Linked DNA regions of Homo sapiens: region 2 is linked to region 1. The links come from fine-mapping of genetic effects on gene expression. A gene starts in region 1. The other region holds a variant in brackets. All regions are shown on one strand. Distances are between the middles of the regions. Region 1 holds the start of PRTFDC1 (phosphoribosyl transferase domain containing 1). Region 2 overlaps PRTFDC1 (phosphoribosyl transferase domain containing 1).

Region 1 (5,375 bases):
ACAGGCATGCACCACCATGCCTGGCTAAGTTTTGTATTTTTTGTAGAGAGAGGGTTGGCTGCCCAGGCTGGTCTCGAACTCCTGGGCTCAAGTGATTTGCTCTCTCAGCCTCCCAAAGTGCTGGGATTACAGGTGTGAGCCACCACTCCCAGCCACCTGCCCCTTTTTAAAACTGGTACTAATTTGATTTTTTGTATCCCATCCTTGAGAGCTTTCTATTCTCCCAGTAAACTCATCCTCTCCAGCTCTCCCTTCCCTCCTGCCTTACATGCCATGAGCTGCCTTCTACCAGCAGCTTCGATTCGCTCTGAAGTTGCCTGCTTATATCCAACTTGAGGTTAATCTAATTATTCCAAGTTCTACTGGAGAAAAGGATGTAAATGTAGGGACTATCTCCATTATATGTGGATTATTTCCCACCTTTGTGGGCTCTCATGCAAGCACCAAGCCCCTTGGCAGCTGGTCCAGTTTATACTCATTTTTTTTGTTTATTTATTTATTTATTTATTTATTTTTTTTTTTTTTTTTAAGAAGGAGTTTCACTCTTGTTGCCTGGAGTGCAATGGTGCAATCTTGGATTGCTGCAACCTCCACCTTCCGGATTCAAGCAATTCTCCTGCTTCTGCCTCCCAAGTAGCTGTGATTACAGGCATGCACTACCATGCCAAGCTAATTTTGTATTTTTAGTAGCAGCAAGGTTTTACGATGTTGGTCAGGATTCTATTGAACTCCTGACCTCAGGAGATCCACCCACCTCGGCCTCCCAAAGTGGTGGGATTACAGGTATGAGCCACCTCACCTGGCCCTCTACTCTCTTGATACCCCTCTCACTACCTCTTTGCATCTTTCAAAAAATTACCTTGCTTCCAAGAGGACCTCTGTTGACACCAATAGACTGGGCTATTTACAGTGTTCTCTCACTTGTTTTTTAGACTTCAACAATTTACCTACTCTATCCGTGCATCTAGATTCACCTTATTCTTTTCTAAAAGTATGTAGTATGTTACGGTAGTACAAGTTGAGTACCCCTTATCCAAAATGCTTGGGATCAGATGCGTTTCCAATTTCAGATTTTTTTTCCTTTGGATTTTGGAATATTTGCATTATACTTCCTGGTTGAGCATCCCTAATCTGAAAATCCGAAATCCAAAATGCTCCAGTAAGCATCTCCTTTCAGCATCATGTTGGTGCTCAGAAAGTTTCAGATTTTGGAGCATTTCGGATTTTGGATTTTTGGATTAGGGATGCTCAACTTGTACTATATTTTAACCATTCTACCAATGCAGTGGTTGTTTAAAAGATTCTCCCTACTAATGGCTTTGTAATTGTTAAATACAGTGGCTGTTTTCCATCTTGGTATCCGACTTGCTGTCCCTGTAACATCTGACACTTCTGATGACCTCTTGACCCCGCCCCTCCTGCTCAACAATGCTCTATTCCCAAGGCACCCACCATGCTGCCTGCCCTCCCACCCTTCAAAGTTCTTTCTCGGTTCCTTCAACCAGCTTCTCCCCCACAGGCAGCCTCTTATATTTGGGACTTTCCAGGCTTCCATCCTTAACAGTTGCTTTAATTGTTTTTTCCATATTCACTGAGCACTCCCGAACATTACATATTATTCTTTTTGCTGATGACTTCCAAATCTCTCCAATCACTCTCCAGAATTCCAAATGTGAATTTCAAATTGCCTACAGTGCAGGCCAACCTGTGGGCCTTACAGGCACTACAAACTCAATTTGTCCAGAATGAACTTAATGATTGCCCTTTTTGCGTTTTAGTCCCCCTCCCATCCATCACACCGCTAGGCTTGCCCCTCCTCCTGGGGCAACTGGAATGGTTTTTGTAAAAGCATAAATCGGATACAATGATTCTTTTGCATTTGGTATGCGGGTCTCTGCCTGCAGTCCACATGGCTACTCCTGTGTACCCTTCAGATCTTGGCTCAAAGGTCACCGCAGAGAGGCTGCCCTGACCACCTGAGCAAAAGCATCACTCCCCCCTTCTCCTCCAATTACCCTCTATCCTGTTACCCTCCTCCTATTGCACATATCTCTATTTGAAATTTTCTCTATTTGTTTACACACTGCTTGCCTATGTCTTCTCTAGAACGCAAGCTCATGAAGACAAGGCCTTTGTCTTTTGCACCCCAGAGCCTACAGCACCTCCTACAACCCAGCAGGACAATAAACGTGTGGAATGAATAAATCAACTCCTCATCCTTTCAGAAGGAAAGGTCCTGCTGTTAAATTAAGCACTGAGCCCCACATTTCAACCTGACCCTTCTGTCTGAATGTGACACGTTTCCCTCCCCAGCCCACTTACTTTAGTTCAGGCCATTCATATTCATAAACAGATTATCTGTGAATGACAAGCTGATCCCTGGAAAGAGATGGCAAGTTAGCCCCACCCACCATCCTCACCACCATTGAGTTTCACACTGAACCTGACACAAGTTATAACCACCACCTTCTAGGAAAACCACTTCTCAGGGAGCAGGGAGGACGTGGCCACAAGGTCAAGAACGGGTTGGATCCTAGCACACTGAGAGATGGGTACCCTCTGGCTGACACCGTCAGGATTCTCAGGGTTAATGAGGCTCAGTTCTGGGAAACCAGCACCCCACACCCTCCCATCCGGACACACTGCTAGATATTTTACATGCATCCTCCCAATTGGCTCCAGAGCCCAGCTTGCTGTTGCTCCCTTTTACAGACAAGCCATAGGTCACTCAGGAGCCGCCAGCGTGTCCTAGAGCTCCTGCAGAGGCCTCCACTGCCAGAGAGCCCCCAACCTGGGTACCAAAGGCTTCAAATCTCAAGCTCTGTCCACTTGAGCTACTTTATTTCCTAGCTGCCTTCAAAACCCCTCAGTGTGCTTTTTAAAAACAAAACTTGAAGCCCGCCCTGGAGGAGTCAAGAGGAGACCCAGGAAGAAGGAGGCCTCCAGAGCAGCACGCGGGGGTCTCTGGGGCCCTGCCGGGCTCGCAGAAGCGACTCCCCGTGGCTCGCGGGGATGGGGACGGCTGGGCGCCGGCGGGACGCTGCAGGAGCGAGCTACCGGCCGGAGGACACGGGGGGACGCTGGGAACTCGGGGTGAAGGGACGGGACTCAGAGTTTCGTCAGATTGGGGGCGGGGAGAGGAGGCCCGGGTCCGAGGATGGAAGCGATCCCCGCCGGGAGGGAGAACAAAGCGGTGGCCCTCTCTCTCCCCCGACGCACGGCAAGCATTTAATCTACAAGCAGGGTGCCAGGGAGGGAGGGGAGCGGGCCGAGCCCCAAAATAGGGAGTTTGCATTTACCACGACGCCTCGCCCGTAGTCTGGCGCCTCCTCGCTGCTCCCGGCCATGTTTCTCCCGGGGAACGCGGGAAGGGAAGACGGCGCGGGAAGGAGCAGGGAGGGCGAAGGCTGCGTGGGGGATGGGACGTGGGGATGGGGACGGGGACGGGGACGGGGACGGGGACGGGGACGGGTCCGCCCCGCCCCGGGCCCGCCGGCGGGAAGCAGCGGCCTGACGCGGATCCATGGCCCCGGCGCTGCGCCCCCTCCCCTGGCTAGGCCGCGGGGGCGCGGGGAGCAGCTGCCAAGCCGCTACCGCTCCCCCTGAGCGCGGGCCCCGGACGCGTCCCTTGCGGCCGCCGCTGTCGCCGCCGCCCCCTGCCGGATGGTCGCGTGCAGCCCCCGGCCCCGCCGCCAAGCCCCGCGGGGACTCTGGAGCAGGAAGCCCGCGGCAGGAAGAGAACGTGTCCCCCAGGCCCCTGATTCCCAGATCCACCGTCCCAGCCCTCGGGCTAACAATCTCCTTGACTCCTCCCTGCCAGATTTCATGCACGCGATTGTCCCAAGCAGAAGCGTGAAAGAGCCTGTGAGCCAGCGTGCTCTTGGAGGATGGGAAGTGTCCTGGATGTGTTTTCAAACCTTGGAGCCGCCACCCACCTCTCTCCACCTCCGCTCATCTCCCTCCACCTCCCCTCACCTCCCTCCACCTCCCCTCACCTCCCTCCATCTTCCTCCACCTTTCTCCACCTTCCCCCACCTCCCTCATCCCAGGGCCTGGAGCTGGAAAGATTACACCCGATTGCTTTTAGGGTGGCCCGGATCTGCAGTGATCAGATCTGGGCTTTGAGGATCCAGCCTTTCGGCCTTTCGTCAACTGCATTCAGGGGAGGAGGGGGAGAGATTTTTACACATTCTCTGCTTTACCAGTTTTGCAAGAACATCTGGTCAGATTGTAATTGTTCCAGGTTGCAGCTTTACTAAAGCAATCGCTCTTTTCTGATTAGAAATCCTTCTTGTATGAGTCTGTTGTTCATTTCAACCCCTCTCACATGCCTATGCTCCGGTTCTTTGTCCACTCCTGTAGGTTCCTGCTTTTTCTGGGTGTGTCTTCATTCCCCAGGTCCCTGACATCTCACCAGCGTCTTCATTCACTCAGCCCAATTCGGGTCGAAGCCCTGAATCCAAGAGAACTTAACACAGTTTTCCTGATGCAGGCGTCTTTTGTTCATCTTCGAATTCTGGCACACAGAGGGGAGAGGAATGCTGATTTTGCCTAGTTTAAAGGGGAAATAGTTATCAATCGGTTAATGACGTTCTAGGTTGGAAAAATATTAGTCATTCAGACTTGGCGCCCTGGTCCTGCTCAGCAGGGCTGGCTCTTCATGTCGTTTCTAAGCGCCAGCGCCTTGGAGGGTGCAGCTCCAGAGATCCCTGAAATCAGGCATCTGCTTGGCAACTGCCTTACAGAAATGGGGGGTGTTGTTTCTCAGCACACGGGTAAACATTTTCTCCTAGTAATTGTGAGAGGGCGTTGTTTTGAGCCATTTTTGTAGTCTGCATCTCACTTCTTTTCCCCAAAGTCAAGCACCATCTTTTATTTTCATTTTCAAAGACCAGGCCCAGGAACCATATTCACAAGCAACATCATTAAAATTTCCAGGAGCAGAAAAGTGCTATCATTAGGATGATGATCAAACTTTAGAGTTCACAAGACTCTCCTGGGGAGCTGGTTAATGCAGCTTCACTGGGTGGGGAAGATCTGTGGAAGCACCTAGAATCCTGTACCTGCTGAGAGACACCAGATGGGTGTGATGTGGGTGGCTCATGACCCATGCTTTAGGGGATTCCACTAGACCATCTTACTGCTTGGATATCAAAACTTAGCCATGAGGCTCAGTGTGGGTGCAGGGCCAGATTGGGGGGTACCAGGAACTTCAAAATATGTCACAGGAGTAGTTGCCATACAGAAGTCAAAAAGCATCAACTTTGGTTCCAGCCTAGACACTGCGGAAGATGTAAGGGAAATGGTAGATAAATCTTCTTCCCTTAGAAAGGCTATTAGTTTAAACGTAAAATCCAACAAGTTCACAGTGAAAA
Region 2 (5,375 bases), 57 kb before region 1:
GACCTAGTAGTTGTATTTTTAATTTTTTGAGGAACCCCCATACTGTTCGCCATAGTAGCTATGCTACATTCCCAAAAACAGTGTATAAGGGTCTCCCTTCTCTCCATCCTCATCAGCATTTGTGATTTTTTTTTTGTCTTTTTCATAATAGCCCTTCTAGCGGGTGTGAAGTGGTATCCCATCTGGTTTTGATTTGCATTTCCCTGAAGATTGATGACATTGGGCATTTTTTCATGTACCTATTGACCATTCGTATACGAGTGACATTCTTCATAGAAACAGAAAAAATAATCTTTTCCTGATTCTTACGGGAAAATGACACCGAGGCCAAGTAGGTGACACAGTCCTGGTCTGCAGTCACATATTTCTCAAGCACTCCTAACTCAACAATTCAAATTTAGTAACAAATTGTGCGTATGATAAATCCACTGGTCCACAAGCAGAAAGAGACTGGGGTATTTCACAAGGCAAGTGGCAATGAAGTCAGTATTCTTCAGTAGAAAACTGGCATTTTAGATTCTTATTTCTGGGGCATTAAAGACCTAAAAGCCAGTGTTGGTACCACTGGCAAGCATGGGTACATATTAAGGATACACGAGTGATTTTTAAACCCGCCACATAAAATGTTTGATTTTTATCACTCCAGTTTATATTTGGCTGAGGAGTATGGGGAGAAAGAGTTTCTAAGATCTCTTAAAACCCTGGGATCTAGCTATCCGTAGATAAGACAATCCACCCAAATTTTGCTCATACAGTATCAGTCTTTGTAATAGCACACCTGACTGAAAGAAAAATAGAAGTAGCACATCCTATGTTACATAATGTTATATATTTGAGAATGAAAACTCACTTGAAATTCAAACACAATTTAAGAGGAAGGTATCCAAACTTGAAAAAATTTTCATGAGTCCATCTCTTAATAATTAGATAGGCATGTATAGTCAGAAAGTTTCTGAAAACACTGATTCTTTTGTTCTCTCTCTCTCTCTTTCTCTCTCTCTCTCTCTTTCTCTCTTTCTTTCTCTTGGCAGGGTCTTGTTCTGTTGCCTGGGCAGGAGTGCAGTGACGCAATCATAGCACATTGCAGCCTTGAGCTCCTGCACTCAAGCAATCCTTCTGTTTAGGCCTCCCAAGTAGCTGGGACTACAGGCGAGTGCCACCACAACCAGTTAGTGTTTTTTTGTTTTGTTTTGTTTGTTGGTTTGTTTTGTAGAGACAGGTCTCAATAGGTTGCCCAGGCTGGTCTCAAACTCCTGGCCTCAAGTGATCCTCCTGCCTTAGCCTCCTACAGTGCTGCAACAACAGGAGGGCCACTGTGCCCAGCTTCATTTTCTTGTAACTAGAAGAATATGTTTCATTAGCTTATAATAGTAATAATAATAGCTAGTCTAACCTTTATAGTGATGGATACTGTGCAGGGTCGTACTTACTTGATCTCATTTTCTAGATGAGAAAATGGAATCTTAATTAAATCGTTGGTCCAAGCTCACTCAGTAATTGGCAGAGCCTGAATGTGAACCCAGGCCTGCCCCACAGCAGAGCCCTCCTGTTTGAGCATTATGTTGAACTTCAGGGAAATGACACAAATCCATACAAATCAACTTGGCAATGCTGGCGGTAGCAGTGCTCAACATGGGCACCCACAGTTTGTCACCTCATGACGTCTATTGGAATGTACTTGGGTCAAGGCAGAGGAGGTGCAGAAACTGCTTGTCTCCTGATAACATTACTGTAGTCCTCAAAGGAAGTGTGAAAATAGGACTTCATTGGCCGGGCGCGGTGGCTCACGCCTGTAATCCCAGCACTTTGGGAGGCCGAGGTGGGGGACCACGAGGTCAGGAGATGGAGACCAGCCTGGCCAACAAGGTGAAACCCTGTCTCTACTAAAAAATACAAAAATTAGCTGGGCGTGGCAGCATGTGCCTGTAATCCCAGCTACTCGGGAGACTGAGGCAGGAGACTCGCTTGAACCTGGGAACCAGAGGTTGCAGTGAGCCAAGATCATGCTGCTGAACTCCAGACTGGCGACAGAGCTAGACTCAATCTCAAAAAAAAAAAAAAAAAAAGAGAGAGAAAAGAAAATAGGAGGGCACTGCTGGCCCTTTGGCCGTGGGAAGTGCTGCATGAGCTGTGAGTCATGCTCTTAGGCTTCGGCCTCTGTGGATGCTGACCACTGACCATCACCAGCAGGCTCTGGACAGGCAAGGTGGGTTTTGTCTGTCACAGTCATGTGTAGTCAGTGGAGAAGAGTGGTTTCTTTTTCCACTTCATGCAGCTCAGAGTTCTGTGAAGGCACCCGGGAGCCAATCTCGGTTTGTGGATGAGGCAAAGTGGCTCACAACCAGGTTCCTGCTCTGCGATCCCCAGGGCAGCTCCATTTTTGAGGTTTTATGGAAGACATCACTTAAAATGTTTCAGTGCTGAAAAAAAGTTTGAAAACCACCCTCCTCCTGGGAGACAGCATAGGATAGTGGTTAAGATCGTGGCTTTGGAGTTTGACAACATGGGTTCAAATCGAGGCTCCGCTCCTGTGGATTGTGTATGCCTTGGGCAAATGAACCCTTTTGAGCCCCAAATGCAGCCTGGCTCAGAGTGGGCATCAGGAAGTAGTGGCGACACACACCACTGTCTGG[C/T]CCCACCCGTGGGTGGTGAGATAGAAGGAAACCAGGTTAAACTCAAAGAGAGACAGAGAAGCCGAGTGGTTCATGAAAGAAAACCCTGGGCTTGGCTTCCCAGACAGGTTTGAAGCAGAGAGGGGTTTGCCTACGTCGTACCAGTCAATGTCTCCTAAGATCACAAAACTGGATGCCACCTTAGAGAAAAGGCAATCCTTGTCTTGTTATAAACTGAAAACTGAGGCCTGAGGAAGTTGTGCTTTGTACCAGATTTAAATTAGAAAGCTATATCCTGCAAAACATTCTATTTTTATATCCGAGTAGGATTTGTCCTTCTTCTGGAAATCTCCACTTTCTTTTTTTTTTTTTTTTTGAGATGGAGTCGCTCTTGTTGCCCAGGCTGGAGTGCAATGGCATGATCTTGGCTCACTGCAACCTCTGCCCCCTGGGTTCAAGACATTCTCCTGCCTCAGCCTCCTGAGTAGCTGAGGTTACAGGCATGCACCACCACACCTGGCTAGTTTTGTGTTTTTAGTAGAGATGGGGTTTCTCCATGTTGCTCAGGCTGGTCTTGAACTCCTGACCTCAGGTGATCCACCTGCCTTGGCCTCCCAAAGTGCTGAGATTACAGGTGTGAGCCACCACGCCCAGTCTTCACTTTATTAGTAGTTTTCTACGCCTTAGAGAATGTGGGGGGTGGTGCATGAACGGCCTTGCTTAGGGAAAAGGAACAGCACTGGAACAGAAGAGAAAGAAAACCTAAAAACCTAGGAGGGCAAGAGCTGGGGTGGATATATATATATATATATATATATATATATATATATATATCTGTAAATACATACACATGCATACACACATTCTCTATCCATATATCTAGAGAGGGAGACTGATTAAAAAATGGAAATCAATATCCCTTGATGCAATTTTTAACCCATTACAACAATAATATGAGTACAGACCTTCCATATAAAAATGTTTTCACATAATTTTCAGACACCTGGAAGTTATGTCAACGCATATTTAATCTAAAAACAAAATAAAACTAGTTCCCCCCCTTCTTTCTTTCACTGCACTGACACAGTGAAACATCTCTGGCCTCAGCTAACTCTTTGGCCACATGGTGCTCCCACCACACATGTACAGAGAAGGGCTTTTGGTCCTGGGAAACTAGGGCACAGAAGTCAACAGTAGGTGTTCTAGAACAGGGGTCCCCAAACCCCAGGCTGTGGATTGGTACTGGTCTGTGGTCGTTGGGAACAGGGCCACACAGCAGGAGGTGAGTGGCAGGAGAGGCAGCATTACTGCCTGAGCTCTGCCTCCTGTCAGATCAGCGGGGGCATGAGATTCTCATAGGATCACAACCCTATGGCGAACTGTGCATGCGAGGGATCTAGGTTGCATGTTCCTTACGAGAATCTAACTAATGCCTGATGATCTGAGGTGGAAGAGTTTCATCTGGAAACCATCCCCCAACCCTTCCCTAGTCCATGGAAAAGCTGTCTTCCACAAAACTGGTCCCCGGTGACAAAAAGGTCGGGGACTGCTCTTCTAGAGGGTGCTTCCCCAAGTCTTTAATTAGGAAGAAAGGCCATTTCTTCACTGGGCCTCCTCATGAGAATCCCAGAGTTCACTAGCTCAACTGCTGACAGTGCCATGCTAGTTTTAGTCTTTTCTTAATGGAAAGGGAGAAAAAGATGAAAGCAAATGCATCTTATTTGGAGGCACTTCAGAGGAAAGTCAGAAAGTATGTCACTCGGTCTGTTGTGAGGAGCACTGGGTGGTCAAGCACTAAACACTCTGGAAAAATCCTGAAATGTCCTCTGTGAAATTCAAGGTCTTTCCAATACCAAACAAAAGTGCATACCACTTAGCGTGTTCTTCTAAAAAGTTGAAAAGGCCGTGTGTACCTTTCGCCTGTAATCCTAGAACTTTGGGAGGCCAAGGAGGGAGGATCCCTTAAGGCCAGGAGTTTAAGACCAGCCTGGACAACATAGCAAGACCCTGTTTCTACAAACAATTTAAAAATTAATCAGGTGTGGTGGTGCGAGTCCGTGGTCCCAGTTACTCAGAAGACTGAGGTGGGAGAATTGCTTAAGTCCAGGAGTTCAAGACTAGCCTGGGAAACATGGCAAAAACCCATCTCTACAAAAAATACAAAAATTTGCTGGGCATGGTGGCATGTGCCTGTAGTCCCTGCCACTCAGGAGGCTGAGGTGGGAGGATCGCTTGAGCCCAGGAGTTTGAGGCTGCAGTGAGCAATTATGAAGCCACTATACTCCAGCCTGACAGAGCAAGAATCTGTTTCAAAAAAATAAATAAATAAATGAACCATCCCCCAGATGGAGAGCATTCTGAACCAGTAGAAGTCCCCTCCTTGGAGTCAGTTAAAAGGCATTCCTATTCCTAAGTCTATCTCTAAGTCTATCCCTATCCCTAAGTCTAAATTTAACAAAAACCAAACAAAATAAAAAGGTACTCCTACTACCTGCTGTCCTCTTTTAGGATGTTCACTGATGGCTTCTCTTCCCCTCCTCTCAGAATTAAGAAGGTTGTGGTATTTAGGATAAAAAATGAGGCAATGTGATGTTTTGGCAAAACCCTTTGATGGCAGGAAACCCTGTTAGCATTTTGATAGAGTGAGTCAGCCATTGAGGCCTTCAGGGGAGTGATAAGAGTGTCCCCAGCATGACACTCCACAACTTGATGGAAATCCGGGGCTTCTTTGTAAGCATAACTGTTTTTCCCAAGAAGTGCAAA

What was found. PIP is the estimated chance that this variant, and not a neighbour inherited with it, causes the effect. A credible set is the group of variants that fine-mapping cannot tell apart.
Region 2: its variant is the best candidate, but not a certain one, in a credible set for the expression of PRTFDC1 in whole blood (TOPMed, PIP 0.73).

Annotation. Positions count from the first base shown.
Region 1 is chr10:24,949,229-24,954,603 of GRCh38, forward strand. PRTFDC1 (phosphoribosyl transferase domain containing 1) reads right to left here and starts at 3,378. Exons shown (of 9, transcript NM_020200.7): 1 at 3,300-3,378. The coding sequence starts at 3,347. It also overlaps a transcript of THNSL1 not described here. RefSeq lists a silencer at 3,539-3,728.
Region 2 is chr10:24,892,283-24,897,657 of GRCh38, forward strand. The region is part of intron 3 of PRTFDC1 (phosphoribosyl transferase domain containing 1); the gene reads right to left. Among named protein-coding and RNA genes, the nearest start is that of PRTFDC1, 58 kb to the right of the region's middle. The variant C/T (reference allele first, on the strand shown) is at 2,634.